Linked DNA regions of Homo sapiens. The protein of the gene in region 1 interacts with the protein of each later gene in a pairwise test. Each region holds a gene or a part of one and is shown on either strand. Other genes may lie near its edges. The genes, in order: SLC13A1, PNPLA6, ACOT2, TBRG1, SELPLG, TP53I11 and TM4SF1.

Region 1 (3,500 bases):
GGCATTAAGAATTTCTAAAGCTAACATGATGTATCAAGATTTATAGCTACCACCTAATGTTTTCATTCCATCTGTTTGTACCTGGACTGAATTCAATGTGTCTTTTTATATAAAACGAAATCTGGTTACATGATGCCTGGCCCAATTTGCCAAAAATACAACCAAAAATTATAACTGAAATAAAAGAAATAAGGTATAATAAAATTATAAATATCGGTCCAGTTTGTAAGATAAATTATGGTAAGGTAGATTTTTAACTAGTAATGAAAGAAAATGTGTCTATACTTAAAGAAAGTAGACTGCTTTAAAAATTGCTAGATTGAGAAAGATACGGCATTTCTTTGGCTTTTTAGATTTTTCAAATAAATTATAGAAGTAGAGAAGCTTCGGTAGTGTATACATATTACTGAGTTGCAAGATAGTAAAAGAATCTTTAGCATGGTACATATTTCTTCTCAGGCTACAGAAATGCACTAGTTAATATTGCTGACTTTTAACACTAAATGCTAATTATTAATGCCTATTTCAGTTATATCTGGTCTCCAGGTTCTTTCCTGTTGAGGCTTCTGGGAATCTGTCTTATTTGTTACAATGGTCTGGTGATTCTAAGACCCCATCTGTTCCTGAATCAGTCTTAATTTATATGGTGATCATTTGTGAGCATTGGCTAAACCACTCCAACAATTAATATTCTTGATTGAATTTCATGGGGTGCAAAAAATTAAGTAGGTTGCTTTCCTTTGTATGATATGGTTAGAGCTTATAAACACAGAAGCAGGTGTGATATCTCAGAAAACAGATCAATTCCTTTTCACAATTTATAGAAGAGCTTTAGAGGAACACAGAAATATCACGCCTTGCCACAATTTAATAGAAGGATGTTATAAATCAATTATATGGGGCTTTCCATGCTCTAGCAATGTTTCAACTTCAAATCTTGATCAATATTATTAAATTAAATAATTCAAAGAAGAAATTGTTTAACAAATCTGTAAGCTTATCTAAAAGGGAAATTTGCCACTTTGGCCTAGTATGTCAGCATGTGTATACGTGGTATTGAAAATAAGAAGAGATATATGGGAACAATAAGACTATGGTCTGAGATTATTGTTTTTAGTGTTGTGTCATTTAATCGGGAATCCATATATTTTAGGGCAGATTATTGAGGATAAATAACCTACACCACCTACTACTGATAATAACCTATTACTGATATGTTATTAGCAAAATTGGTGTTTTAGCTCATTTAAGTTCTTGATGCTATTTTTAATACATGTATTTGTCCCTTTTACAGGTACCCTGGTTTTGCTACAGATTCAACTGTTGCTTTACTTATAGGGCTGCTATTCTTTCTTATCCCAGCTAAGACACTGACTAAAACTACACCTACAGGAGAAATTGGTTGAGTATCATTTATAATTCTGCATAAATTTAACAGAAGAGCAAAAATTACAAAATTCCATTGGTTTCGCTTGGCACCTAGAGCAGAAAGAAAGTCTATGCTGGCACAATCCCTGGCCTAGCATGCCCTATTTGCAAACTGCAATGCTGTCTTCAAGCCAGCACAGCTTCCACCTTCAAGAGAGATCGTCTTACTTTGCAGAAGTGAGAAGTAGATTTCCTTTTGTATCATGGCTAGGGCTCTGCTACAAGCGATACTATTTGACCCATGGTAAACTCACTTCAAAATTAATCTTACTATTGGCAAACAGAGGAAAAAGAACTTGGAAGACACTGCTTCATTATGATACCTTGGTAATAAATGCAGAGGATCTAAAAAGGTGATGAATTTCAAGAGAAAGAGTATTTACATTCTCAAAGTAGTTCTGGAACAAAAGCTAAATAAACCTCACATAGCCATATCCTAGGATCACAGCTGAAATAAAAGGGCCAGATGTGGTGGCTCACACCTGCAATCACAGCACTTTGGGAGACTGAGGCAGGAGGATCACTTGAGGCCAGTAGTTTGAAACAAGCCTTGGCAGCATGGTGAGACCCCAGCTCTATCAAAAAATTAAAAAAATTAGCCAGGTGTGGTGGCCAATCTGGAGGCCAACGCAGGAGGATCACTTGAGCCCAGGAGTTGGAGGCTGTAGTGAGCTATGATTGTGCCACTGCCCTGGGCAACAGAGGGAGACTCGGTCTCTAAAAATAATGATAGTAATAAAAATAAAGAAAAGGTATTCTGTGACAGCATTCATTGTATTTACAACACATGAACAAAGAAGTGTGCACATTTGCCTGAGCATACCATCCTCTCAACACACACACACACACACAGACACACACACTTTTTAAACACAAGATTCATCCATATCTTTGCTTTACAACACAGCATGTTTTGAGTAGTCAGATTCCTATCTTGTCAATGTGGGACAACTAATTTGTAATTGTCTGGAAATTAACTAGTAGACTTGTGGTTTTGTTTGTTTGTTCTTATGGGGATGGAACTGGGATTTATGTAGTTGTGTTGGCCCACTTGACTCTTGTCAGAATCTATAAATGACTAATGTATCAGATTTCCAGGACATATGTGACCAGCACAGCATAGAAACAAATGTACTTTGTTTTTCACTTGAGATTAGAATATCTCAATGTGTGTTAAGGAGGTGATGCAATATGGAGCATTGATTCCTATGGGACCCCAAGGACTCTGATCATTGCAGTCAAAGCCCTGAGGTCTGGCAGTGGCAAGTACTGAGGAATCCATGTTTGGCTTTAGCTTCCCTGGTTTCCACATCTGAATTCCCTCCCTTAGAAAGAGCCTTGCTCCTACCCACCTTTCTCTCTCCCCTCATTCTTCAAAACCTCTTCTCCCTGCTAAAGTCATTCATACAAGGCTTAAAAATGACAAATAATATATAAATATGTTAAATTTTAAATAAGAAGTACTTGTCAGAGATGTTTACATTTTAACAAGATATATGACCTTAAAGTAAGAAACCTGGTGACATAATTTCAGTTATCAGTGAGGATGGGTTTGGTTTGGATTTGGGGGAAGATGATAGGAAGGAAGCTTATTGGTAAACTTAAAATCTTACCATGTAGAAGGCTGCCTGTTATACACAAGTTAAATGGGCAGAATATGTCTCCAAATGAACTTCTTTATCAACAAAGCAATGGAGAGATCAGAAGCCAAATATAAAGAGAAATCTTTATGATAATCCTTTTATAAGCACTTTAAGAACCTCATAAATAATACTTTATTTAATCTGAATCTTGAATTATTTTTAAACTGAAATCTTGGTGAATCTATCATGATCCTCCTTATGACCTAAAAACTAATAAAATGTTCAAATATTAATGGATAATAATTAAAATGCTACAAGATGCTATTGGAACCAATGGAATATTATGGACATTTTGCATAGCAAAGAATATTATAGTCTAATGCACTGTGCTATTCACAGTTGGCAAAGATGTTAGTGGAATATAAATGAATGAGTGAGTGAATGAATGAGTACCATTATAAGTGACAATGTTATAATTTATTGAAATAT
Region 2 (3,500 bases), on another chromosome or scaffold:
TCCTGGCCAACATGGTGAAACCCCATTTCTACTAAAAATTCAAAAATTAGTCAGGCACGATGGCGGGCGCCTCTAGTCCCAGCTACTCGGGAGCCTGAGGCAGGAGAATCACTTGAACCCAGGAGACAGGTTGCAGTGAGCTGAGATCGCACCCCTGCACTCCAGCCTGTGCAACAGAGTGAGACCCTGTCTCAAAAAAAAAAAAAAAAAAAAAGTGGGCAGGGAAAACCCTTAGTGGTCCCTGCCCTTGGGCAGCCCACCGTATTCTGAGAGACATGACTCAAAGGATTACACAAATTCTTGTAAAATCATAAGTGCTTAGTGTCACAAAGGAAATGATCTTGGCACTACAAAGTCTGGCTTAGACAGGGTGGCACCTCTAAGGGCATGACCTAAGAAGGAAGGAGGGGGAGGAACAAACTGGGTGCAGGTGGGAGGAAAGGTCATTCTAGGCAGAAGGAAGAGCTTGTGCAAATGTTGTGTGGTGGGAAGAAATAGGTTGATCTCTAAGAAATAAAAAAGGAAGTCAGTGGGCCTCAAGTGAAACAATATTTTTTGGGGGGGTGTAATGGTTTTATTGAGCTATAATTCATGTACTATACAATTTACCCATTTAAAGTATATACTTTAGGCTGGGCACAGTGGCTCACGCCTGTAATCCCAGCACTTTGGAAGGCCGCGGCGGGAGGATCTCTTGAGTCCAGGAGTTCGAGACCAGCCTGGGCATCATGGCAAAACCCAGTCTCTACAAAAAACAAACAAAAAAAATTAGCCAGGCATGGTGGCGCATGCCTGTAGTCCCAGCTACACGGGAAGCTGAGGCAGGCATAAGCCACTGCACCTGGCCATGCCCACCTAATTTTTGTATTTGTAGTAGAGACAGGGTTTCGCCATGTTGGCCAGGATGGTCTTGAACTCCTGACCTGAGGTGATCCGCCTGCCTCACCCTCCTAAAGTGCTGGAATTACAGGCATGAGCCACTGCACCCGGCCTTATGTAAGGGCTTCTGTGTAGACATATATTTTATTTATTTTTTTAAAGGTGGGGTCTCACTATGTTTCCCAGGCTGGTCTTAAACTCCTGGGCTCAAGTGATCCTCCCACCTTGGCCTCCCAAAGTGCTTGGACATATGTTTTCATTTCTCTTGGGTATATACCTAGGAGTTGAATTGCTGGGTTATAAGCCAATTCAATTTTTTTTTTTTTTAAGAGGGAGTCTCGCTATGTCGCCCAGGCTGGAGTGCAGTGGCGCGATCTCAGCTCACTGCAACCTCTGCCTCCTAGGTTCAAGCAGTTCTCCTGTCTCAGCCTCCTGAGTAGCTGGGATTACAGGCACACGCTGCCACGCCCAGCTAATTTTTGTATTTTTAGTAGAAACACGGTTTCACCATATTGGTCAGGCTGGTCTTGAACTCCTGACCTCAAGTGATCCATCCACCTCAGCTTCCCAAAGTGCTGGGATTACAGATGTGAGCCACCATGGCCAGCCTCTATTTTTAATTTTTTTAAGCACTGTGTGTTTGTTTGTTTCTTTGCTAGACTGTTTTCCAAAGCAGCGGCACCATTTTACATTTCCACTGACAGTGTATGTGAATTCCAGTCTCTCTACATTCTCTCTAACCCTTTGTAATTCTAGCCATCTTTGTGGGTGTGAAGTGTAGTATGTCATTGTGGTTTTGCTTTGCATTTCTCTAATGACTTGACGTTGAACAGCTTTTTATGTGCCTATTGGCCATTTGTATATCTTCTTTGGAGAAGTTTTTATTCAGATCTTTTGCCCATTTTACTCTTACTTTTTTTAGAGACGGGGGTCTCACTATGTTGCCCAGGCTGGTCTCCAACTCCTGGGCTGAAACTATCAAGCGATCCTTCTGCCTTGGCCTCCCAAAATGCTGGGATTGCAGGCGTGAGCCACCGCACTTGGCCTTTAATTTATTTTAGAGACGGGGTCTTGCACTGTAGCCTAGGCTGGAGTGTAGTGACGCTATCATAGCTCACTGCAACCTCAAACATCTAGGCTCAAGCAATCCTCCTGCCTCAGCCTCCAGAGTAGCCAGGACTATAGACACATGCTACCATGCCTGGCTAATTAAAAATTTTTTTTTTTTTTTTTTTTTTTTTTTTTTTTGTAGAGACAGGGTTTCACTATGTTGCCCAGGCTGGTCTTGAACTCCTGGGCTCAAGCGATCTTCACACCTAGGCCTCTCAAAGTTCTGGGATTACAGTTGTGGGCCACCACACCCAGCCCCTTCAGTATACTTTAAATCAGGGGTGTCCAATCTTTTGGCTTCCCTGGGCCACATTGGAAGAATTGTCTTGGACCACACATAAAATACACTAACAGTTATAGCTGGGCATAGTGGCACACACCTGTAATCCCAGCACTTTGAGAGGCCAAGGCGGTTGGATCACTGAGGTCAGGAGTTCAAGACCAGCCTGGCCAACATGGTGAAACCCCGTCTCTACTAAAAATACAAAAATTAGCCAGGCGTGTGGCAGGCACCTTTAATCTCAGCTACTTGGGAGGCTGAGGCAGGAGAATCACTTGAACTCTGGAGGCAGAGGTTGCAGTGAGCCGAGTTTGTATCACTGCACTCCAGCCTGGGCAACAGAGCAAGACACCGTCTCAAAACCAACAAACCAAAAAACCCCACTAAAGATAGCTGATGAGCTAAAAGAAAAAAAATCGCAAAAAAAAAAAAAAAATCTCATAATGTTTTAACAAAGTTTATGAATTTGTGTTGGGCCAAATTCGAAGCCATCCTGGGCCACGTGCAGCCCGTGGGCAGCAGGGTGGACAAGCTTGCTTTAAATCATCTCGAGATTACTTATAATACCTAATACAATGTAAATGCTATGTAAATAGTCATTATACTGTATTATTTAGGGAAAAACGGGGAAAATAGTCTGTAAATGGTCTGCGCAGGTGCAATTTTTTTTTCCTGAATATTTTAGATCCAAGGTTGGTTGAATCCTGGGTATATGGAACATATATATATATATACACACACATATATATACACACATATATATATAGAGAGAGAGATGCTGCTCATCTATATATAATCTATGTAAAAAAATTTTTCTTTTTTTTTTTTTTTTTTTGAGACGGAGTCTCGCTCAGTCGCCCAGGCTGGAGTGCAGTGGCGCGATCTCGGCTCACTGCAAGCTCCTCCTCCCGGGTTCACGCCATTTTCCTGCCTCAGACTCCCAAGTAGCTGGGACTACAGGCGCCCGCCACCACGCCTGGCTAATTTTTTGTACTTTTAGTAGAGACGTGGTTTCACCGTGTTAGCCAGGATGGTCTCGATCTCCTGACCTCGTGATCCGCCTGCCTCAGGCCTCCCAAAGTGTTGGGATTACAGGCATGAGCCATCGCGCCCGGCTAAAAAATATTTTTATATTTATTTATATTTATATATAGATGGTGCTTATATCCAAAGTCTTTATTCTCTCCTTCATGTTTCTTTTTTTTCTTTTTTTTTTTTTGAGACGGAGTCT
Region 3 (3,943 bases), on another chromosome or scaffold:
AGTCAACTGGAAACAGTCCAAATGTCCATCAACAATAGAACAGATTAATAAATTGAGGTATATTTCCAGCAGTCAAAGTGATTGAACTACAGCTACAAGAATCAACATCTATCAAGATATACAAAAGAAAAGAAAAAAAAAGAATCAACATGGATGAATCTCCAAACCACTGTTGAGTGAAACAGTCAAACCCTAGGAGAACACATTCAGTATCATTCCATTTAGATACAATTCAAAAACTAGGCAAAATAAAATATTAAGGTACATAATCTAAGTGGTAATACTATGAAGAAAACCAAGAGTGATACACAGAAAGTCCAGGATACTGGAAAGAGAGGAAAGGGCACAGGGGTCTGTGGGACGTTGATGGTTTGCGGGTATCAGCACTGAACTATGTCTTAAAAGTGTTGCCTGTAAGGTGTTTGCATTTTTTTTTTTTTTTTTTTTTTTTTTGAGACAGTGTCTCGCTCTTTCGCCCAGGCTGGAGTAGTGGCACAATCTTGGCTCACTGCAACCTCCACCTCCCGGGTTCAAGCGATTCTCCTCCCTCAGCCTCCCGAGTAGCTGGGATTACAGGTGGCCGCCACCACACCCAGCTAATTTTTGTATTTTTAGTACAGATGGGGTTTCACCATGTTGGCCAGGCTGGTCTCGAACTCCTGACCTCAGGTGATCCACCCGTCTCAGCCTCCCAAAGTGCTGGGGTTACAGGCGTGAGCCACCGGACCCAGCCTGCATTATTACTATTTAATTTTGTGTGAAACACAAAACCTTTAATGTAAATGATAAAAATATCAGTAAGTGGAGTCATTCAGAATGAGTAGCCTTTTGAGTCTGTCTCCGTTGAGTAAGTGCATTCTGTTGAGTGCACTGGAGAGGAATTTGTGCTCTTCTATGTAGCAGTCTTTCTTTTTGTTTCTTGGTGGTGCACCATTAAATGGATTCATTCACCAGTTAAAGGACATTTGGGTTGTTTCCAGTCTTTGGCTACAACGAGTAAAGTCACTATAAACACTTGCCAGAGGTTTCTGGACGAACAGGTTTTCATTTCTCGTGGGTAGATACCTAGGAGTGGGATTGCTGGGTCACATGTGTGGTAAGTATATGTTTAACTTAAACCATCCAACTGTTTCAGGAATAGCTTAGTTTTGCATTTTGTTTTGTTTCTTCCCAAGAACCTGGGCCCTTTCCTGGGATTGTGGACATGTTCGGAACTGGAGGTGGCCTGCTGGAGTATCGGGCTAGTCTGCTGGCTGGGAAGGGTTTTGCTGTGATGGCTCTGGCTTATTATAACTATGAAGACCTCCCCAAGACCATGGAGACGCTCCATCTGGAGTACTTTGAAGAAGCCATGAACTACTTGCTCAGTCATCCCGAGGTTAGTTCTTCTTTCAGATTTATGGGCTATGATGTATCAGGTCTCTTCTTAAATGGTCTGGGTTTTCACAGAAGTTAGCTCATTCATGACAGCCATTCCCTACCCCAACACACACTACCTTTTTTAGTCACTTCTTATAGACAGTTTCTTTTTTTGAGATGGAGTCTCACTCTGTTGCCAGGCTGGAGTCCAGTGGTGCGATCTTGGCTCACTGCAACCTCCACCTCCCAAGTTCAAGTGATTCTTGTGCCCCACCCTCCCGAGTAGTTGGGATTACAGGCACCTGCCACCATGCTTGGCTAATTTTTGTATTTTTAGTGGAGGCGGGGTTTCACAATATTGGTCAGGCTGGTCTTGAACTCCTGACCTCAAATGATCCACCTGCTTTGACCTACCCAAGTGCTGGATTACAGGCATGAGCCACTATGCCCAGCCTAATATTTGTATTTTTTTTTTTTTAAGTAGAGATGGGGTTTCGCCATGTTGGCCAGGCTGGTCTCAAACTCCTGACCTCAAGTGATCTGCCCACCTTGGCCTCCCAGAGTGCTGGAATTACAGGCATGAGCCACCACACCTGGCCTCTTATAGACAGTTTCTATTCAATTCTATATTACTATATTTCCTGCTAGTAAAGAGATTCGTAGTTGTTATTATGCAATTTTAAATTCCAGTATTTTTTTTTTTTTTTTTTTGAGATGGAGTCTTGCTGTGTCACCCAGGCTGGAGTGCAATGGCATGATCTCGGCTCACTGCAAACTCCACCTCCCAGGTTCAATTGATTCTTCTGCCTCAGCCTCCCACGTAGCTGTGACTACAGGCACGTGCCACTACTGCCCGGCTAATTCTTGTATTTTTAGTAGAGATGTTTCACCATGTTGGCCAGACTGATCTCAAACTCCTGACCTCAAATGATCCACCCGCCTCAGCCTCCCAAACTGTTGGGATTACAGGCGTCAGCCACCACTCCCGGCCATGAGATGATGTACTTGTTGATGATGACTCAGTTTAGTTATGACAGTGGGAATGGGTGGCTCAGGTGGGAGACAGAAAAAGATCATGGGAGATACGAGATTAAGGAACTGAGAAACCAGAGAATAATTGATAGATCTTCCACATGGTTATCACCAAGAGTGGTGATGGACAAATTGTGGAAAGGAAGAGATAGAGGGGAGGTAAATTCTCAAAGTTGCAAATCTGGGTAAATGGTAGAACCTAGATTCAGACTCAGGTTCAACTAACTTCCAGGGTGGACACAACTCACCATATTCCACTGTTTGTGGAATCATTCTTCTTCTTTTTCCTTTGTCCCTTTCTCAGGTAAAAGGTCCAGGAGTTGGGCTGCTTGGAATTTCCAAAGGGGGTGAGCTCTGCCTTTCCATGGCCTCTTTCCTGAAGGGCATCACGGCTGCTGTCGTCATCAACGGCTCTGTGGCCAATGTTGGGGGAACCTTACACTACAAGGGCGAGACCCTGCCCCCTGTGGGCGTCAACAGAAATCGCATCAAGGTGACCAAAGATGGCTATGCAGACATTGTGGATGTCCTGAACAGCCCTTTGGAAGGACCTGACCAGAAGAGCTTCATTCCTGTGGAAAGGGCAGAGAGCACCTTCCTGTTCCTGGTAGGTCAGGATGACCACAACTGGAAGAGTGAGTTCTATGCTAATGAGGCCTGTAAACGCTTGCAGGCCCATGGGAGGAGAAAGCCCCAGATCATCTGTTACCCAGAGACAGGGCACTATATTGAGCCTCCTTACTTCCCCCTGTGTCGGGCTTCCCTGCATGCCTTGGTGGGCAGTCCTATTATCTGGGGAGGGGAGCCCAGGGCTCATGCCATGGCTCAGGTGGATGCTTGGAAACAACTCCAGACTTTCTTCCACAAACACTTGGGTGGCCACGAGGGGACAATCCCATCAAAAGTGTAAATTTTATTTGATCATGTGGCCTCTCTGTTGCTAATCTCTCCTGGAAACATCTGCCACATTTAGTGTGTGTATGTGTATTCATTCTTTTGTTTTTAATAACTAAAGTTTTTTCCCCTCATTATTAAAATGAATTTACCAGTAAGAATGAGTTTTTAAGATTTTTATAAACTGTATACTTTATCAGTTTGGGAAGGGAGTAACTGTAGGAAACACAAGAAGTGGAAAAAGTCTCCTCTTCCTATCTCAACACACAACTGATAAGGCTTTAGTTCTGAAAGGAAAAGTGAGTAACATCAATTAACAGTGTCTGGTACGTAAATGGAGTTCAATAATTATTTGCTGAATGAGTATAAGTGAGCCAGGCGTGGTGGCTCACACCTGTAATGCCAGCACTTTGGGAGGCTGAGGTGGGCGGATCACTTGAGGTCAGGAGTTTGAGACCAGTCTGGCCAACGTGATGAAACCCCATCTCTCCTAAAAATACAAAAAATTAGCCAGGCGTGGTGGCAGGCACCTGTAGTCACAGCTACTTGGGAGGCTGAGGCAGGAGAATTGCTTGAACCTGGGAGGCGGAGGTTGCAGTGAGAAGAGGTTGCAGTGAGAAAAGATTGTGCTACTACCCTCCAGCCTGGGCAACAGCAA
Region 4 (4,300 bases), on another chromosome or scaffold:
ATTATACCATATTAACATTGCCAATTTACTTGTCTGTCTTTCCTTCTTAAATTAAGGTTCTTAAAGGTGGTATCATAATAGGCACTAGGTAAATATTCTTCTAAACAAATAAGGACTGAATGAGTTGCTCAGTGGCATGACCTTTGTGGAGCACACATATCCAGCCTCTGAACAGTCCTATATGGAAAAAGCTTTGGACGCAAAGATATGCTTTTAATGGAATTGACCAAAAAGTCAAAGAACATGGAAATAATTATGCAAAATATAATATAGCCATAACTGGAATATTAACCAGCCACTTAAAATTATGCTTATAAGGAAGCTATACTAACATTTGTGAAACTGAAATGATACAATGGTAAATGAACAAAAAGAAAACTTTATTTTCAGTATTGTCTAACCTATACAAAAATGCATAAAATATTAGACACATATACTAACATGGTAAAAGTAGTTCATTCCAAGTGGTAGCATTATGGATTTTTAAACCTTTCTTGTACTATATTTTCTAAATTTCTAAAGTTCGAATGAAATGTTTTGTAAGTGTAAGGAAATGTGTCCAATGAAGAAGAAACAAAAAATATCTTCATGCAAATCCCACTAAAGTCCATTGGCCAAAACAGCCTGCAAACTAGGACAAAGGATAGCACTTTTCTTCCCCCTAGATGTGATACATGTATATGAAAATAAATAATACAAATAAAGTCAGACCCCAAAGCCCGCAAGGACAAAATACAGCAGAACAGCAAATTTTTTTTTTGAGAGAAAAAACTAGAGAGTTACTGAACTAGTTATTGGCATCGCTGGAAGAAGATGCAAGCAAGCCTTCTGCCATCCAGCCTGGGTCACTTACCAATACCGCACCCTAAAGATTTTTCTATCTTCCCTAATTTTAAATAGACCTTGGTTGTAAAGTTAGAACCATATACATGTACATATTATGTACAGAAATACACTTCTGGTTTCACTAGACAAACATTTACTGAGTGCCTACTTAGTGCTAGTATTAAAACTGCGTGTTAAATCTCTCATCTTCCCTACTAGAAAGAGCCAAGGCCTTTCTTCCTGTTCACTACTGTGTTCCCAGCTCCTGGGAAGATGATAGCATTAGGAGGCCCTGCAAACACATTTCTGTGAGCTGCAGAAAGGAACGAAGCAGGGAAAGAAGCAGAGTCCCAGCACTTGGGCTCACTTTGTCCTACAGTCTGGGAAAGCCTGTCTGCACGAAGCATGAAAAACGTATTAAAACGCAGTGGCCCAGCGGGGGAGCGTGAATGAGAGCTCGCATTGGTAAGCTTCTTGTTAGTTCGTTGGTTCAACTATAGTACCCTTCAGCTAAGCACACGGCCGCCGGCCCTCCCTCCTCTCCTCATCCAGCACTAGCCCCCAGCTGTCTCTTTCCTCCCGGTGCCCACGATCGCACCGCCCAGACCACCCTACTCTCCCTGCCCCGGAAGTTACACACTGCCGACACCGGGACGTAACTTCCGGGAAGGGCTTACTTCCAAGACAGACACGGAAGTGCTGGGAGGCGCCGGGAGCCCGTTCGGTTGCGGGTGTCTCTGGCCCTGCGGTCAGCCCTGGGAACGTCCCGGAGAGCTAGATTCCTAGAGGCCCGATTCCGCTAGCCCGGAACAGACAAAGCCAGCGCTCCCGCCCGCTCCCCGACTTAGGATCCGATGCCGGCAGCGTCCTGGGGCCCCCGTAGCGGGGCTGGACCATGAGCCTGCTGGACGGCCTCGCTTCCTCGCCGCGGGCTCCGCTGCAGTCCAGCAAGGCCAGGATGAAAAAGCTCCCGAAGAAGAGCCAGAATGAGAAGTACCGGCTGAAGTACCTGCGGCTGCGCAAAGCGGCCAAGGCCACGGTGTTTGTGAGTCTGACCCACGTTCAGCCGGTCCCCTCCTGGAGACTCCCTCACAAAATCTTTCCCCAAGCTGTTCCCCCTTCCCAGTGTGACAGTATTAATACAGTGTTGGCTTTTCCGTATACGTTACTACTTGTTAGCCTTGTGTCCTTGGACAAATTACGTAATTTCTCTGTGTCCTCATCTGTAAATGAGCTAGTAACTGTCTTGCAGAATAATGAATATTAAATGAGTAAAGAAAAGTGCTTGGTGCGTAAAAGACATACCAATAAATTTTAGTCATCGTTGTTACTGCAGGACTCTAGGAAATGTGTTTGATTCTCGAGATACAGCCCTGAGAATTAGGCATTATTTGTAAAATGAGAACACTGAAGCCCAGAGAGATGATTTGCCCAAGGGTACTGTGTCAGAGCCCTGACTCCAACTTAGATAAACCTGATTCCGTTTTATGACTTCCAGTACACAGACTATTTTCTGAGCACCTCAAATCCCCATAACTGACCCTTTGCCCAAAGAGGTACATGAAACTGTCAGTAATTTCCCCCCTCTAACCTTTGAGTGTTCCAAGTGTTTCTTCCTTTCTTTTATTGTAGAAGCACTGGATTTATTGAGTGAATAAACTTAATATAGCTTGCCAGCCATAACTTTATATTAGAATAGTTTGGCTTGCCTCAGTGCTTGGAAATAGGGGTGGAGTCCTCAAATGTCCCCCCACATCCAAGTCAACAGTTCATCTCTTCTCTCTACCAAAAGCTTGAACGTCTCTCAGCATTTTTGGAAGCATAAGGAAAGGTTCAGAAATTAGAATACACATTCCAAAAGCACTTATTCAGCACTTGCTATGTGTATTGCTTGCTATTTGCACTGGAGAGAAACAAGAAAAGTAAAACTAAGAGAACTTAGCATCTGATTGACTGTTCCCTTTCTTTTATCCCCTATACGTCAAAGGTACCTAAAGCTTGGAATTTATGTTATTTCAAGGATATTGGTTCCATCAAATACATAATGAAGATTTTGTGAAGAAAAAGCGATGTTGTTTTGAACATTGAGAGTTTGAAGTTCCACCTATGGGGGCATTCAGATTCAGCATTCCCTTCAGGATTGGTGCTTGGGAGATAGATTGAGTCATCATTTACAAAAAAAAAAAAAAAAAAAAGAAAAAAGATAATACTTGAATTCGTATAAGTAGATTGTGAAGTTTAAGAATTTTACACACTAAATTTGATTTTGTTCTGTCCAGTTTTTCTCTATTTGGGTTAGACTGGCTTTGTAAGTTTTTCAAGAGTTGAGGCACTTGGGAATAGACAGTTTTCATATTTATAGTATTTAATTTAAGCATATAAGGATTTAAGCAGTATGCCTTTTTCTTTGCCAAAGGCTATACTAATTAGGGTGACCATTAATCTTGGCTTGCCCAGGACAGTCCTGGTTCACCGTATTGTTCTGGCATAAGCATTAATAGTACCCCCTTTTCACTCAAAGATGTCCCGGATTGGATAATAAATTACATAGCTATACCCTGTCCATAGTAGAACCTGACTACCTTTATCTATGGATTTATTTATAGTTTGTCACACGGTCGAATAGCTCCTTCTTCTCAGTAATACAAGCTTTTTTGGTTTGAAATATGGATCCTCTTCCCAGCATAATAATGTGATTTTTTTATTCATTTTATGTTATTATATTCACATTTTTACTTAAAGGAAAATGCTGCTATTTGTGATGAAATTGCTCGTCTTGAGGAAAAATTTCTTAAAGCAAAAGAAGAAAGAAGGTGAGCTGGCTTCATTTTGTGTTCAGCATCACCTTTTTGGTGATTGATTTGGTGATTGATAATGGTGTTACTGCTCTGGAGACTTTTTTTCCCAGTGGGATTGATGCGTATCGCACAGCCCCTTGGCCACTTGATCAAGCACAGAGAAACTTACAGCCTGAGGCATTGGTGCCTGCACACCCAAGTTATGTTGGGCCATGGCGATGAGACAGCTCCTCTACTCATCTTTCTGAAAAAGCCATCTTGCCACATCTAATAAATAATCTTACTAAGATTATTTAATCTTATGGCCCAATTATAAAAGCCAAGTGATAAAAGCAACTGCCTCTCGTTCTACAAATATTTATTCTGTACGTACTATTCTGTGCAAAGCACAATGGGTATATATACATGTGTAAATAATGTGCCTTTCAGAAGCCTAACACCGTCCAACATCAAGGTAGAGGAACCGTCCAGATGCAAGAGATAAGCTACAGTTCTTATCCTTGGCCTCTTGAAGTATTGATTATCCTCCAGGGCTTTATGATTCATAGGGCCTAATAAGAACCTTTCTTTTATGAGTATAGTAATCTTTGTATATAATTCTGGCTTTTCCCAGTACTTGAGTAAAATACTGAATTGAGACAATACGGAAGTTCATTTCTCTGCTCCTTTCCTTCCTG
Region 5 (3,500 bases), on another chromosome or scaffold:
CAAGCTCCTCCTTTTTCTTACTCTGCCCTCCCTCTCCCACCCAAGTCCACAAGCCCAGCCTTCTGTCTCCTCAACTAGGTCAGGTGTCTCCTGACGGCCTCATGCCTTCCTGAACCTCACTGGGTTTCAGTCTGATCTTGACCTCTCACCAGCTGTGTGTCTTTGGGCAAGTCACTTCACTTCTCTTAACCTCAGTGTGGTCCTTGGTAAAATGGGGATAATTGTGAGGGCCAGATGTCTCTGGTGCAAATATCGTAAAGTTTGGTTTAAGAAAGTATTTTTTTATTTTTTAGACAGAGTTTTGCTCTTGTCTCCCAGACTGGAGTGCAGTGGTGTGATCTTGGCTCACTGCAACCTCTGGCTCCCAGGTTCAAGCAATTCTCCTGCCTTGGCCTCCCAAATAGCTGGAATTACAGGGAGCACCACCACGCCCGGCTAATTTTTGTATTTTTAGTAGAGACAGGGTTTCACCATGTTGGCCGGACTAGTCTTGAACTCCTGACATCAGGTAAGCCACCTGCCTTGGCTTCTCAAACAGTTGGGATTACAGGCGTGAGCCACTGCACCTGGCCTAAGAAATTATTTTAAGATGTGGGTCGGGTGTGGTGGCTCATGCCTATAATCTCAGTGCTTTGAGAGGCCGAGGCAGGAGGATTGCTTGAGGCCAGGAGTTTGAGACCAGCCTGGACAACAGCAAGACCCCGTCTCTACAAAAAAAAAAAAATTAAAAATTAACCAGATGTGGTGGCATGTGCATATAGTCCCTACTACTCAGGAGGCTGAGGTGAGAGAATCACTTGAGCCTAGGAGGTCGAAGCTGCAGTGAGCTATAATTGCACTACTGCACTCCAGACTGGGCGACAAAGTGAGAATCTGTCTCTAATATAAGTAAGTCAATAAATAAATGGAAATAAATTAGTTTAAGATATGATCAGATTTGCATATTTGAAACCAACATAGGCCTGGCACGGTGGCCCACGCCCTGTAATCCCAGCACTTTGGGAGGCCGAGGTGGGCAGATTGCTTGTGGTCAGGAGTTTGAGACCAGCCTGACCAACATGGCGAAACCCCGTCTCTACTAAAAATACAAAAATTAGCTGGGCATAGTTGTGTGCGCCTGTAGTCCCAGCTACTTGGGAGGCTGAGGAAGGAGAATTGCTTGAACCCGGGAGGCGGAGGTTGCAGTGAGCCAAGGTCGTGCCACTGCACTCCATCCTGGGCAACAGAGCGAGACTCTGTCTTGGAGAAAAAAAAAAAAAAAAAAAAGAAAAGAAACCAACATAATTCTAACTAACATATGAAAGAGATCAGATTGAACCTGGCTGGAAGGTGAGGGGCCCGTGAGTGAGTTACAGTCACCCGAGGAATGATGAGCAACTGTTCGTTCCTCCAAATCATGTGAATGAAGTACAAAGGAAGAGACTGGAAATTGTCCGGGTGCTATTCTTGAATGCCCACTCTGCATCAGACACTATTCTAAAAGTTGTGTGCTGCTGAAGGGTGTTATATCCAGGGAATGCAGGAATACCTGAATCCTGCCCCAGAACGTGGCTGTCACTCACCATAGGATTCTCAGCATAGAATTTTTAATTCTGTAAACACCAGCCAGTGCCAAGGAGAGCATGAGGGGAGAGAAAGAAAACAAGAAAGCACAGGTGTTCACAATGCCAAGAAGAAAGATCAATGAGATGACCAAACAAGAGGCACTGTCTTTTCTGGCTACCTAGTAGGGAGGACAATGTAGAGTCTCTGAATAGACAGTGGTCCTACCCACAGGCACACTCAGTGACTATAAGCTTCCTGAGAGCAGGGCTGTTCTGAAGAGATTTGAGTTTTCTCCTGGCCATGGAGAGTGTAATTAAGTAGCCCTGGGCCCTTGAAGACTTATAGTGCAGGTTGACTGAAAGAACTAAATCAGCCAGTCTTTGCGGAGAGGTTGTCATGCAAACGAAGTGCTAAGGGTCTTGCATGCATCCCTTCATTTTATCCTCACAATAGGCTGTGAAGTAGGCACCGTCATCCCTGTTGTGCATTGTGCAGGCAAGAACACCACCAAAGCAAATGGGACCAAGACAAGACATTGAGAAGGAATGAGACAAACTGAGACTCTGAGGACTGGCAAGGGCTATGGAGGGTGGAAGCAAGATAGGAGAAGGAGGAAGACAGACATATAGAGGTGGCATGGCAGTGGGCAGGGAGAGGGGGCAGCAGGTAGAATCAGACTCCAAGAGGCCTCAAAGGTCCAATAAGCAGCGGTATCTGGGAGGTCTGTGGTTTACAAACTCTTCTGCTTATGGACTTCGTAAGTGGTCAATTAATCTATTTATGAATTCTGTGCAGGTACTACTTTACTCTTATGATAGATTATAAATAATGTAATACTTGAAATTAAGAAGGAGTGACATGAGGTCGGGCGCAGTGGCTCATGCCTAATCCCAGAACTGTGGAAGGCCAAGGTGGGCAGATAACTTGAGGCCAGGAGTTTGAGACCAGCCTGGCCAACATAGTGAAACCCCGTCTCTACTAAAAATACACAAATTAGCTGGGTGTGGTTGTGCATGCCTGTAATCCCAGCTTCTCAGGAGGCTGAGACAGGAGAATCACTTGAACCCGGGAGGTGGAGGTTGCAGTGAGCTGAGATAGCGCCACTGTACTCCAGCCTGGGTGACAGAGCAAGACTCCATCTAAAAAAAAAAAAAAAGAAAAAAGGAGTGACATGAAAAGTTAATAGAACTAGAAGCAGAAGCACTAAATCTTTCTACACCCCAGTGGATTGTCTTGTCCACAAATAAAGTGGCTTAACCAAAATGGAGAGGGAGGCAAATCAATTTCTATGCACCATCTAGAAGAAGTTAAAGGGCCCTCCTGGATGGCTTTATTCATGTTGATGAGTAATAATAATAACTGCTACTGGCTGAGGATCTTCTCCATCCCAGGCATGTCAGGGATGCCTAAGTCCCCAGTCCCTGCTCCAGACCAGACATGCTTCCAGCTGTGGCAGTAGAGGGTGGTGGTCTAGGGTGCTTGCTAAGCCCAAGGGTGAAACTGTCTTGACATCCCTCCGCCCATTGTCTCCTCCTAGGTGCCATGCCTCTGCAACTCCTCCTGTTGCTGATCCTACTGGGCCCTGGCAACAGCTTGCAGCTGTGGGACACCTGGGCAGATGAAGCCGAGAAAGCCTTGGGTCCCCTGCTTGCCCGGGACCGGAGACAGGCCACCGAATATGAGTACCTAGATTATGATTTCCTGCCAGAAACGGAGCCTCCAGAAATGCTGAGGAACAGCACTGACACCACTCCTCTGACTGGGCCTGGAACCCCTGAGTCTACCACTGTGGAGCCTGCTGCAAGGCGTTCTACTGGCCTGGATGCAGGAGGGGCAGTCACAGAGCTGACCACGGAGCTGGCCAACATGGGGAACCTGTCCACGGATTCAGCAGCTATGGAGATACAGACCACTCAACCAGCAGCCACGGAGGCACAGACCACTCAACCAGTGCC
Region 6 (4,169 bases), on another chromosome or scaffold:
CGATGCTGCGCTGGCCCTGGGAGGGGTCCAGCCAGTGTAGCAGGATAAACAGTGAGACACAGGGTGCCGGGGAGGTATCGTGGACCAGGAGTCAGAACATCAGGCACCCCGCCCTGCAGCTGCCTCTCCTGGCCTGTGTGTCCTGGGGTGACTGACATACTGTCTCTGAGCCTCACTTCCCTCACCTGTGAAAGGGGAGGAATTCATCCCTTCTCAGTCACTCACTCTTCCTCAGCCCCTCACTCCCTGCTAGCTGCAGGGTAGGCACATTCCAGCCTCAGGGCCTTTGCATGGGCTGTGCTCTAGCTGTCTACACAGCTCACTCCCTCATCTCCCTCAAGGCTGTAGCTCAAAAGTTACCTCCTCAGGGAGACCTCCCTGACACCCTATTTAAAATGACAACCCGGTCCCTGGCCTCAATACCCCCAACACAACTTTTCCCCTTCACCTCTCAGTACACTATATAATTTGCTTATTGTTTTTATTAGGGAATTGCCTCCCCCTGCCCCCTGCTTTTAAGCATCAGCTCCATGAGGACAAAAATTTTTATTTTGTCCACAGCTGTCTCCCCAGTGCCTGAAACTGTCCCTGGCACTTTGCTCCATAAGCCATTTTTGGTGTAATGCTCACAAACATTTTGTTCAATAAGCAAAAGTAAAGAACAGCCCCAAACTGTGTGACTATGGGGCATTCCTGTTAAATCCAGCCCCCTCCTCCCCCATACCCCAAGAGGGGCAGGCCCTTCTTCCCACAGAGGTGGGGCTATCAAAAGAAATTGGGAGGCTGGGTGTGAGCTGGAGAAGCCACAAGGGGCCTGGAGGCAGAGCTGTGCAGAAAATAGGTCGCAGTCCTAGAACTGGCAGGTCATGACAGCTGGACATGGGTGAAGGGGCTTTCGGCCTTAGCCCTCCACTCCAAATTTGGAAGCACGGAGGAAGTTGACGACATGTGACTGGGAAAGAAGCGGCCATGGCAGGGGCCTCCTGGGATGGTGGGGACAGAGGGGGCCTCAGGAACAAGACGACCCATTTTACAGATGGGACAACAGAAGCCTGGAGAATAGTCTTATTTCCTAACAACCCAACAAGAAAAATCTTTTCTCTCCTTTCTCGAAGTCTGGGGCTGAGGCTAAGGAGCGGACAGTGCCCCCTCCTGGCTCTGCAACAAAACGACCCCCGCGTCCCTGGGATCTGCGGGCCGCAGATCCTGGTCCCCTCTCCACAGGCCGTCAGGGGTGGAGGTCCAAGGGACCACATAGTTGGGGTGGGCAGCCCCGGTGACTTCTCCCCGCAGGCCCGCCCCGTCAAGAAGTTTGTTTGAAAGAAACCAATCAGGAAGTGCAGGGTAGTGGGGCGGTGAGGGGGCCTTGGCCAGCCGCTCTGGGCTTTGGAGGAGCCTGGGGGTTCTTGGCCTCCGCGCTGCTCTTGCCCCAGCCTCCATCTCTCCGGCGGAGAAACCCACTCCCCCCGGGCTCCAGGAAGAGGCGGAAGCCCGAGACTGGGTCAGGGCGAAGGAAGGTAGAGCGAGGGGACCCAAGGCGAGCGCCCCGCCCCGCCCCGCCCAGCGGGGCGCGCCGGGGTGGGCGCGGCGTTCTGGCCCTTCCTCCACACAGCCTCCCCCGGGTAGGTGCGAGTGTTCTGCCCACGGCAGGGGCCCTAACCCACCCAGCGCCCGGCCAGTGGCCCCACACTGTACCCTTCCTGCAGATCGCGCGACTTTGGGGAGAGTGGGGGGCGTCTCCACCTGTGCGTCCCCTACCCACCCCCTAACTGGGCTAAGGCGCGGCCTGGGTTTCTGCCCGCCCCTTTCCAGCCTGGGGACGGGGGACTCTCTCAGCCTCGCCCCTCCCCCTGCAATCTGTCCCTGATGTCCCCGCTCCAGACACTCACCCACTTTCTGAGACCCAGGCCTCAGCGCCGGTGTCCCCCGGCGGTGAGCTCCGAGCCGTTAGGCGGCCCCGGGTTCTCCGGCCCAGGGCCCCTGCCCCCAGGCCCCCACCCCAGAAGGTCGGGCCAGACTTGTGGGCAGCGGGAACTCCGCCACCACCTCCGTCCGCGGCCCTGCGGGGGCAAAGACTGGGGGAACTCGCAAGTTTGCGCCGCGCACTCCTCCTGCCGGGAACAATGGCGGGAGGGGGAGGGGACAGAGAACCGAGCGCGGGGGACCGAGTCAGACCCCGGGGAGACAGAAACTGCTTTCGCTCCGTTTCTCTCCTGCTCTGAAGCAGAAAGCTCGAGCCCGAGAGGCAGTGGCCGAGGACGAAATAAGCAGTCCAGGAGGAGGGCGACCGCGGAGCCGGGGGAGAGGGGAAACCGAGTCAGAGGGAGGGGCGGCGAGGGGAGAGCGCGCAGGGGAGACGGAAGGGGCTGCGGGACGGCGCCTTGGGGAGCTGGGGAGGCGACCCCCTGGGGTCCCAGCGGGCTCAGCGGGTGCCGAGATGTCCCGGGGCGCCCGGTTAGCGCGCGCGGGGTCCCGGCCGCCCCTCTGCGGTCCCGTCGGCCGCAGGAGCCCCGCTGGGTTGCGCTGCGCAGGCGGCGGGCGGCGGGAGGGGAAAGTCCGCGGCTCGGAAGCGGCGGCGGGGAGCAGAACTTACGGGCCTCGCGCGTGCCGGCGCTGGGCTACGTGGAGCTGATGCCAGGCGGAGGCTCCGGGCTCGGACGCCTCACATCGCGCCGCCCGTGCCGGGCCGGGCAGTGCAGGGCAGGGCAGGGCAGGGCAGGGCAGGACAGGGCAGGGCAGGGCAGGGCCGGGCCGGCTGGACTGCGCGCGGCGCCCTGCGCGGCCGGGGCTTACCGAGTCTGGCGGCCCGCGCTGGTCCCTCCTCTCGGTTCCGCGCACAAGCCAATGGCGCGCCGTCCCCTCCCACGCGCCGGGCTGCCTCGCCCCCAGGGTGGCCGCCGGGGCGGGCGGGATGGGGGTTGGCGGGGAAACCAGGCTCCCGGCTCCCCCGCGAGGCTCTCCCGGGGGCCGCCTGCAGGGGGCGCACGCGCGCCCGAGAGAAGGCGCCGGGGGAGGAAGCCGCGCGGGGAGACCCTGGCGTGGCCCGCGCCGCCCAGGATGACTTTCCTGGCAAGTTCTGCAGACGGTGCCCCTTTCTTGGGACGATCAACGTAGATGGGCAAACCACACCATCTTAAATAGCCTTGCGGTGTCTCCCGGGCCCAGGCCGGTGCCTGAAATGGAAGGGACTGCTTTGGCTGGCGGTGATACCCAAGTGTGTAATAACACAGTCACGACAATAGTCACCGTTTGCTGCGCACTCTCTGATGCCAGACACCATATGCTAAAGGAGTTACAAGTATTAACTCATTTGATTTTCACAGCAACCCATAAGGGCGCTGTGCTTAGTCCCATTTTACAGGCCATGGTCGTTAAAGTTTGAGTTCACTCAGCCTTCAGGCTTCCAGCCTAGGCCCACCCTTCTCTCTCCCTGCTTGGTGTGACTTGGCCAAATAACATGACCCCACTGTCACTACGGCCACCTTCTTCATACTCCACCCTAAAATCCAGCCTCAGAGATGCTGCTGTCAGTTGCGCTGTCAGGAGGCTAGGATCTTATCTGGGGCTCTAGGACGCTTGTTGGCGCTACAGTTGTCAAACCTTTTGTCTCTACACATCCTATGGGGGGCTGGGGTGAGGATGAGGGTTGGGGGTCATGGAGGCTCTCTGGTGGCGTGTCAACCTGAGAGAACCAGGCTCCTACAGACAAGGCCCCACCCCCAAATTCTGGGCTCCTTCAACCCCTTATGGTGGGAAAATAATGTGCTCTCTCCCACCCCAACCCCCACCACCCTGTGCTCTCCTTAGAGAAATGCCTGGATCTCTTTCATCTGATCTGATGGTCACAGTGGGCCAGGAACCGGGGTGGGGGGCTGCGGGAAAAGGAAGGCAAGGCTGATGACATGCTCCATTTCACAAGTAAATAAGACAGAAAGAGGTGAGTGGCTGCCTCAGGCATCTAGCTAGGTGGGCATTCTGACTCCAGGTCTCGGTTCTGTCTGCACCAGTTCCTTAACGGTTAATAGAGCAGGCTCTGGAACCAGATCACCTAGGTTCAAATCCTGACTCTGCCTTTTAGTGCCTGTGTGGCCTTGGACAAAGTAAGTCACCTAGAGCAACCAATAGTAAGAACCGGCTATGGTTGCTGTAGAGATTTAGAGTTAATAGGA
Region 7 (4,138 bases), on another chromosome or scaffold:
CCTTCTTCTTCTAAGCTAATGCCTCCCTACCTTGGTCCTTTTCTATTTTCTGTACTCTCTATCTTGTCCTGGTGACAAGGCCCTCCAGGCCTGGCCCCACCCGGCCACCCTGTCCACCTCCCACCACCATCCACTGGCTGGTGCAATCTGCTGTTCAAGGCATAAATTTATTCAGTGCCCAGCCCCTCCTTCTGCAAGGTAACCACCTAGAAAGTTAGTCTAACACCCTTTCTCTGCCCTGTGTGGGGAGCCTGTGGAAGCTGGTCTCAGGATCTGGCTGGGTAAACCATCTGTTTACCTCTGTGTGGGTTCTGACACTCCTAGCCAGTTCTGTTTCTCTGAACCTTGTTTCTCCACTCTGCTTGCCAAGTCCCTTTGTCTTATTTTTTTCTCCCTCTCCCTCCTTCCTTCCCTCCCCCCATCCTTCCTTCCTTTTTTCCTTCCTTCCTTCCTCCCTCCCTCCCTTCCTCCCTTTTTCCCTCTCTCCTTCTCTCCCTCCTTCTCTTCTTTCCTTCCTCTCTTCCTTCCTCCTTTCCTCTTTCCTTCTCTCCCATTCTCTTCCTCCCCCTCTCTTCTTCCTCTTTTTATTTTTGTCCCATGCTTTAGGCCTTCCTTGGCCCTTCCTGGCATTGCTTTTCCTGACAGCAACACTCAATAATTTTTAAAAAGCACCTGAGCCCTTTGTGTTGACTGATGCCACCTCTGTTGTGGTGCAGATTTGTTTTAGAGGCAGATGTCCAGGGACGCTGAACACTGAAATCCATCCTGCAGAGCTTGCTGTAGGCAGAGTAAAGAAGTTTGCTCTGTAGTTTTCCCAACAGCCTTCTCAAATCCATGGGAGACGTCTCAGACACCTTGTATTTAATAGACAAGGAAATGAGCTCAGGAGATTTGCCCCAGGTTGTAAATTAAATCAGCACAAAGGTAGAAATGAACACAGAGCTCTCAGATTGGAAGCTGTCCAGACAGCTGCATGGAGCAGGGGCACAGCTCACTGTCTTTCAAAGCCTCAACCAGGGCTGTTGCATCTCGGACACTTGGCAGTTACTGGAAAGTCATGTTAGGCTTTCCTGTTGATTCTTTATCTTGTGGAGGAGTTGCACAGTCAATGCCTTGTTCAAGATTAATCATTTTCCCTGTTGCCTATGACTGAGGCTGTTTCTCACATCCTGCCCCTGGTTTTGCCTGTCCCAAGGATTTCGTCTGAAGGGCGGGACATTCCCCCTGCCTCTTCGCACCACAGCCAGAGCCTGCCATTAGGACCAATGAAAGCAAAGTACCTCATCCCCTCAGTGACTAAGAATCGCAGTATTTAAGAGGTAGCAGGAATGGGCTGAGAGTGGTGTTTGCTTTCTCCACCAGAAGGGCACACTTTCATCTAATTTGGGGTATCACTGAGCTGAAGACAAAGAGAAGGGGGAGAAAACCTAGCAGACCACCATGTGCTATGGGAAGTGTGCACGATGCATCGGACATTCTCTGGTGGGGCTCGCCCTCCTGTGCATCGCGGCTAATATTTTGCTTTACTTTCCCAATGGGGAAACAAAGTATGCCTCCGAAAACCACCTCAGCCGCTTCGTGTGGTTCTTTTCTGGCATCGTAGGAGGTGGCCTGCTGGTAAGTCATTCAGGATTATTACTGAATTCTCTCCTGTTTCCTAGATGTTTTCATTATGTATTTTCATGGAAAGTTTTTTGTAATGCATATTTCTAAATCAAGTGACTTTTTTGTTGCTGTTCATTCCTTTGAAAGCAGATTATACAAAAGCGAGATTGGTACAGTATAGCGTAGTAATTTTATGAGATGTTGTTTTACAAAATGCTCTTTCAACTAAAAGTGAACTGCCTTTTTGCTAAACTCTATAGGTAGGAAACAGATATTCGCTTTTAAATCAGATTTGAGAGACTATAGAGTTTCTACTAGAACGGGCAGTCATTTAACATTTGCTCTGGGGAGCCGGAAGGGGTTGGCTGGTTCTCTGCCTAAATCAACAGTTTTGAATCCAAATTCTCTGCTGTTTATTTTCAGCCATCTGTGATAGGGAAAAATAATGAATTGTGAGTGCATTGCTATTTTAAAAGAACTCTAAGCTTTCTCCTTTATGTAAGGCTGGGGTGTGGCGTCTAGGAAAAACCCTACAGTTAGCAGCAGGTCGGTGTCTGAAGCTAATAGTGGAATGTGTTATTTTTTCCAAGAATTGTTTTTGATTGAAGTGAGAGGAATTTCCCTGCCAACCTGGGAGCTGAAAGCATTAGCTTCAACCACAGCATGGAAAGAATGTGAGCAAACTTAAGTTTGCTACTTTAAAGTGCTGGGATTAAAAATTTTAAGGAGAAATTTTATGGAATGGTACCATACGTGATAAATTTTCTTAATCAAGTAAAAGATAGTAAAACATTTAAACCTAATACACTGATTATGGCATGGCAAATCTGCCCTAAATTATTTATTTAATGAGATTTTATTTAATTTTATTTTATTTAATGAGACGGGGTTTCGCCATGTTGCCCAGGCTGGTCTTGAACTCATGGGCCCAAGTGACCCTCCTACCTTGGCCTCCCAAAGTGCTGGGATTACAGGCATGAGCCACAGTGCCCGTCTGCCTCAAATTTAAGCATTATTATCATGTTAACATGATTATTTGTCTTAAACATAACATCACACTTAAGTTTCTTTCGATCTTGAACCTGAAGTATTTCATATTTACTATATTTTAAGAGCTTAATATTGTTAAGTTAAAACTATGCATTTGTATAATCAAGGAAGCAGTTAATATTTATTATATATAGCTTTCATGTCTCCCATTTACAAAAAAGTTTCAGTTATTCTATTAAAGATTTGTTGGTATATTCTGCATTTTACAAGTGGAAAAAATCAGATTTAAAGAAAGGGTTTAATATTTCCAAAACAGAGTTTGTTATCTGGGGTCGTGTGATAAACTCTTGTGGAATAAACACGTTTACAGTTTATTATTTTACTCCTCCCATGTTACATCCTCACCCTAAAAAATGCTTTGACAGATTACATGAAAACAAGCAGATATGACATTTAAATGGTCTTTTTCTCCTCAGAGGTTTACATTCTTTGAGATATCTGGTCAACCTAATCAAAGCCAGTTAATGTCATTGGAAATAAATATATTTTACCAAGAGATGCCTAACCTGACCCATATGAGCCTGAGCAAGACAATGACCTGACTTTGTTTGTTTCCTAACCAGATGCTCCTGCCAGCATTTGTCTTCATTGGGCTGGAACAGGATGACTGCTGTGGCTGCTGTGGCCATGAAAACTGTGGCAAACGATGTGCGGTAGGTCCTCCTGCCCTGGTGGTGAAAATGACTCCTAAGATGTAGCTGTGGCACTCTGTGGCTCACTTCCTGTGTGTCTGCTTTTCCCTAGATGCTTTCTTCTGTATTGGCTGCTCTCATTGGAATTGCAGGATCTGGCTACTGTGTCATTGTGGCAGCCCTTGGCTTAGCAGAAGGACCACTATGTCTTGATTCCCTCGGCCAGTGGAACTACACCTTTGCCAGCACTGAGGGCCAGTATGTAATTACTCTCTACATGGCTACACATTTTTATCCACCACATGTATATAGTGGCAGCTCTATCAAACCAGATAGGCATCCACTTATCCATCCATCCACCCACCTAGCCAGTGTTTATTCTCACTGACTCAGGCATGGTTTAGGCAATAGGTATCCAAGGATGGATCCCCAGTCCCCGACCTAAACAAATTCTAAATGCTTCTTTTCTTTTCTTTCTTTCTTTTTTTTTCCCCCAGAGACAGGGTCTTGATCTGTCACCCAGGCTAGAATGCAGTGGCACAATCATAGCTTACTGCAGCCTCTAACTCCTGAGCTCAAGCAATACCCCTTCCTCAGCTTCCCAAATACAGAGTGCTTTTGAATAGATTCAATAATTCAGTCCTTATAATAACCCTATGAAGTGACTTCCTATTTTAAAGATGAGGAAACAAAATCACAGAGAGATGGAGTAATTCATCCAAGGTCACGTTGCCAGAAAGTGGCAGTTAGCATTTGAACCCAGGCAGTCTAGATGTAGAGTTTGTGTTCATATAGTGCATCTCAATTACTTCATACATTATACCAGAACAATTGCCTGATTAAGTGTAATA

Evidence for each region.
Region 2: the proteins of SLC13A1 (region 1) and PNPLA6 interact in a protein complementation assay, tested with the Homo sapiens proteins (one large-scale study listed by BioGRID).
Region 3: the proteins of SLC13A1 (region 1) and ACOT2 interact in a protein complementation assay, tested with the Homo sapiens proteins (one large-scale study listed by BioGRID).
Region 4: the proteins of SLC13A1 (region 1) and TBRG1 interact in a protein complementation assay, tested with the Homo sapiens proteins (one large-scale study listed by BioGRID).
Region 5: the proteins of SLC13A1 (region 1) and SELPLG interact in a protein complementation assay, tested with the Homo sapiens proteins (one large-scale study listed by BioGRID).
Region 6: the proteins of SLC13A1 (region 1) and TP53I11 interact in a protein complementation assay, tested with the Homo sapiens proteins (one large-scale study listed by BioGRID).
Region 7: the proteins of SLC13A1 (region 1) and TM4SF1 interact in a protein complementation assay, tested with the Homo sapiens proteins (one large-scale study listed by BioGRID).

The regions. Positions count from the first base shown.
Region 1 is NC_000007.14:123,123,470-123,126,969, reverse strand, and holds part of SLC13A1 (solute carrier family 13 member 1), read left to right. Parts: intron 1-1,294; coding exon 1,295-1,401; intron 1,402-3,500. UniProt on the Homo sapiens protein: Sodium:sulfate symporter that mediates sulfate reabsorption in the kidney and small intestine. Can also mediate the transport of selenate and thiosulfate.
Region 2 is NC_000019.10:7,545,717-7,549,216, forward strand, and holds part of PNPLA6 (patatin-like phospholipase domain-containing protein 6), read left to right. Parts: intron 1-3,500. UniProt on the Homo sapiens protein: Phospholipase B that deacylates intracellular phosphatidylcholine (PtdCho), generating glycerophosphocholine (GroPtdCho). This deacylation occurs at both sn-2 and sn-1 positions of PtdCho.
Region 3 is NC_000014.9:73,572,213-73,576,155, forward strand, and holds the end of ACOT2 (acyl-coenzyme A thioesterase 2, mitochondrial), read left to right. Parts: intron 1-1,175; coding exon 1,176-1,378; intron 1,379-2,073; coding exon of another isoform or gene 2,074-2,157; exon of another isoform or gene 2,158-2,195; intron 2,196-2,695; coding exon 2,696-3,301; 3' UTR 3,302-3,443; downstream 3,444-3,943. UniProt on the Homo sapiens protein: Catalyzes the hydrolysis of acyl-CoAs into free fatty acids and coenzyme A (CoASH), regulating their respective intracellular levels. Displays higher activity toward long chain acyl CoAs (C14-C20).
Region 4 is NC_000011.10:124,621,364-124,625,663, forward strand, and holds the start of TBRG1 (transforming growth factor beta regulator 1), read left to right. Parts: upstream 1-1,500; 5' UTR 1,501-1,720; coding exon 1,721-1,870; exon of another isoform or gene 1,871-3,567; coding exon 3,568-3,638; exon of another isoform or gene 3,639-4,300. UniProt on the Homo sapiens protein: Acts as a growth inhibitor. Can activate p53/TP53, causes G1 arrest and collaborates with CDKN2A to restrict proliferation, but does not require either protein to inhibit DNA synthesis. Redistributes CDKN2A into the nucleoplasm.
Region 5 is NC_000012.12:108,623,895-108,627,394, reverse strand, and holds part of SELPLG (P-selectin glycoprotein ligand 1 isoform 2 precursor), read left to right. Parts: intron 1-3,082; coding exon of another isoform or gene 3,083-3,087; coding exon 3,088-3,500. UniProt on the Homo sapiens protein: A SLe(x)-type proteoglycan, which through high affinity, calcium-dependent interactions with E-, P- and L-selectins, mediates rapid rolling of leukocytes over vascular surfaces during the initial steps in inflammation.
Region 6 is NC_000011.10:44,948,084-44,952,252, forward strand, and holds the start of TP53I11 (tumor protein p53-inducible protein 11), read right to left. Parts: upstream 2,801-4,169; 5' UTR 2,594-2,800; intron 2,078-2,593; exon of another isoform or gene 1,890-2,077; intron 1-1,889.
Region 7 is NC_000003.12:149,374,850-149,378,987, reverse strand, and holds the start of TM4SF1 (transmembrane 4 L6 family member 1), read left to right. Parts: upstream 1-1,338; 5' UTR 1,339-1,440; coding exon 1,441-1,617; intron 1,618-3,218; coding exon 3,219-3,308; intron 3,309-3,399; coding exon 3,400-3,545; intron 3,546-4,138.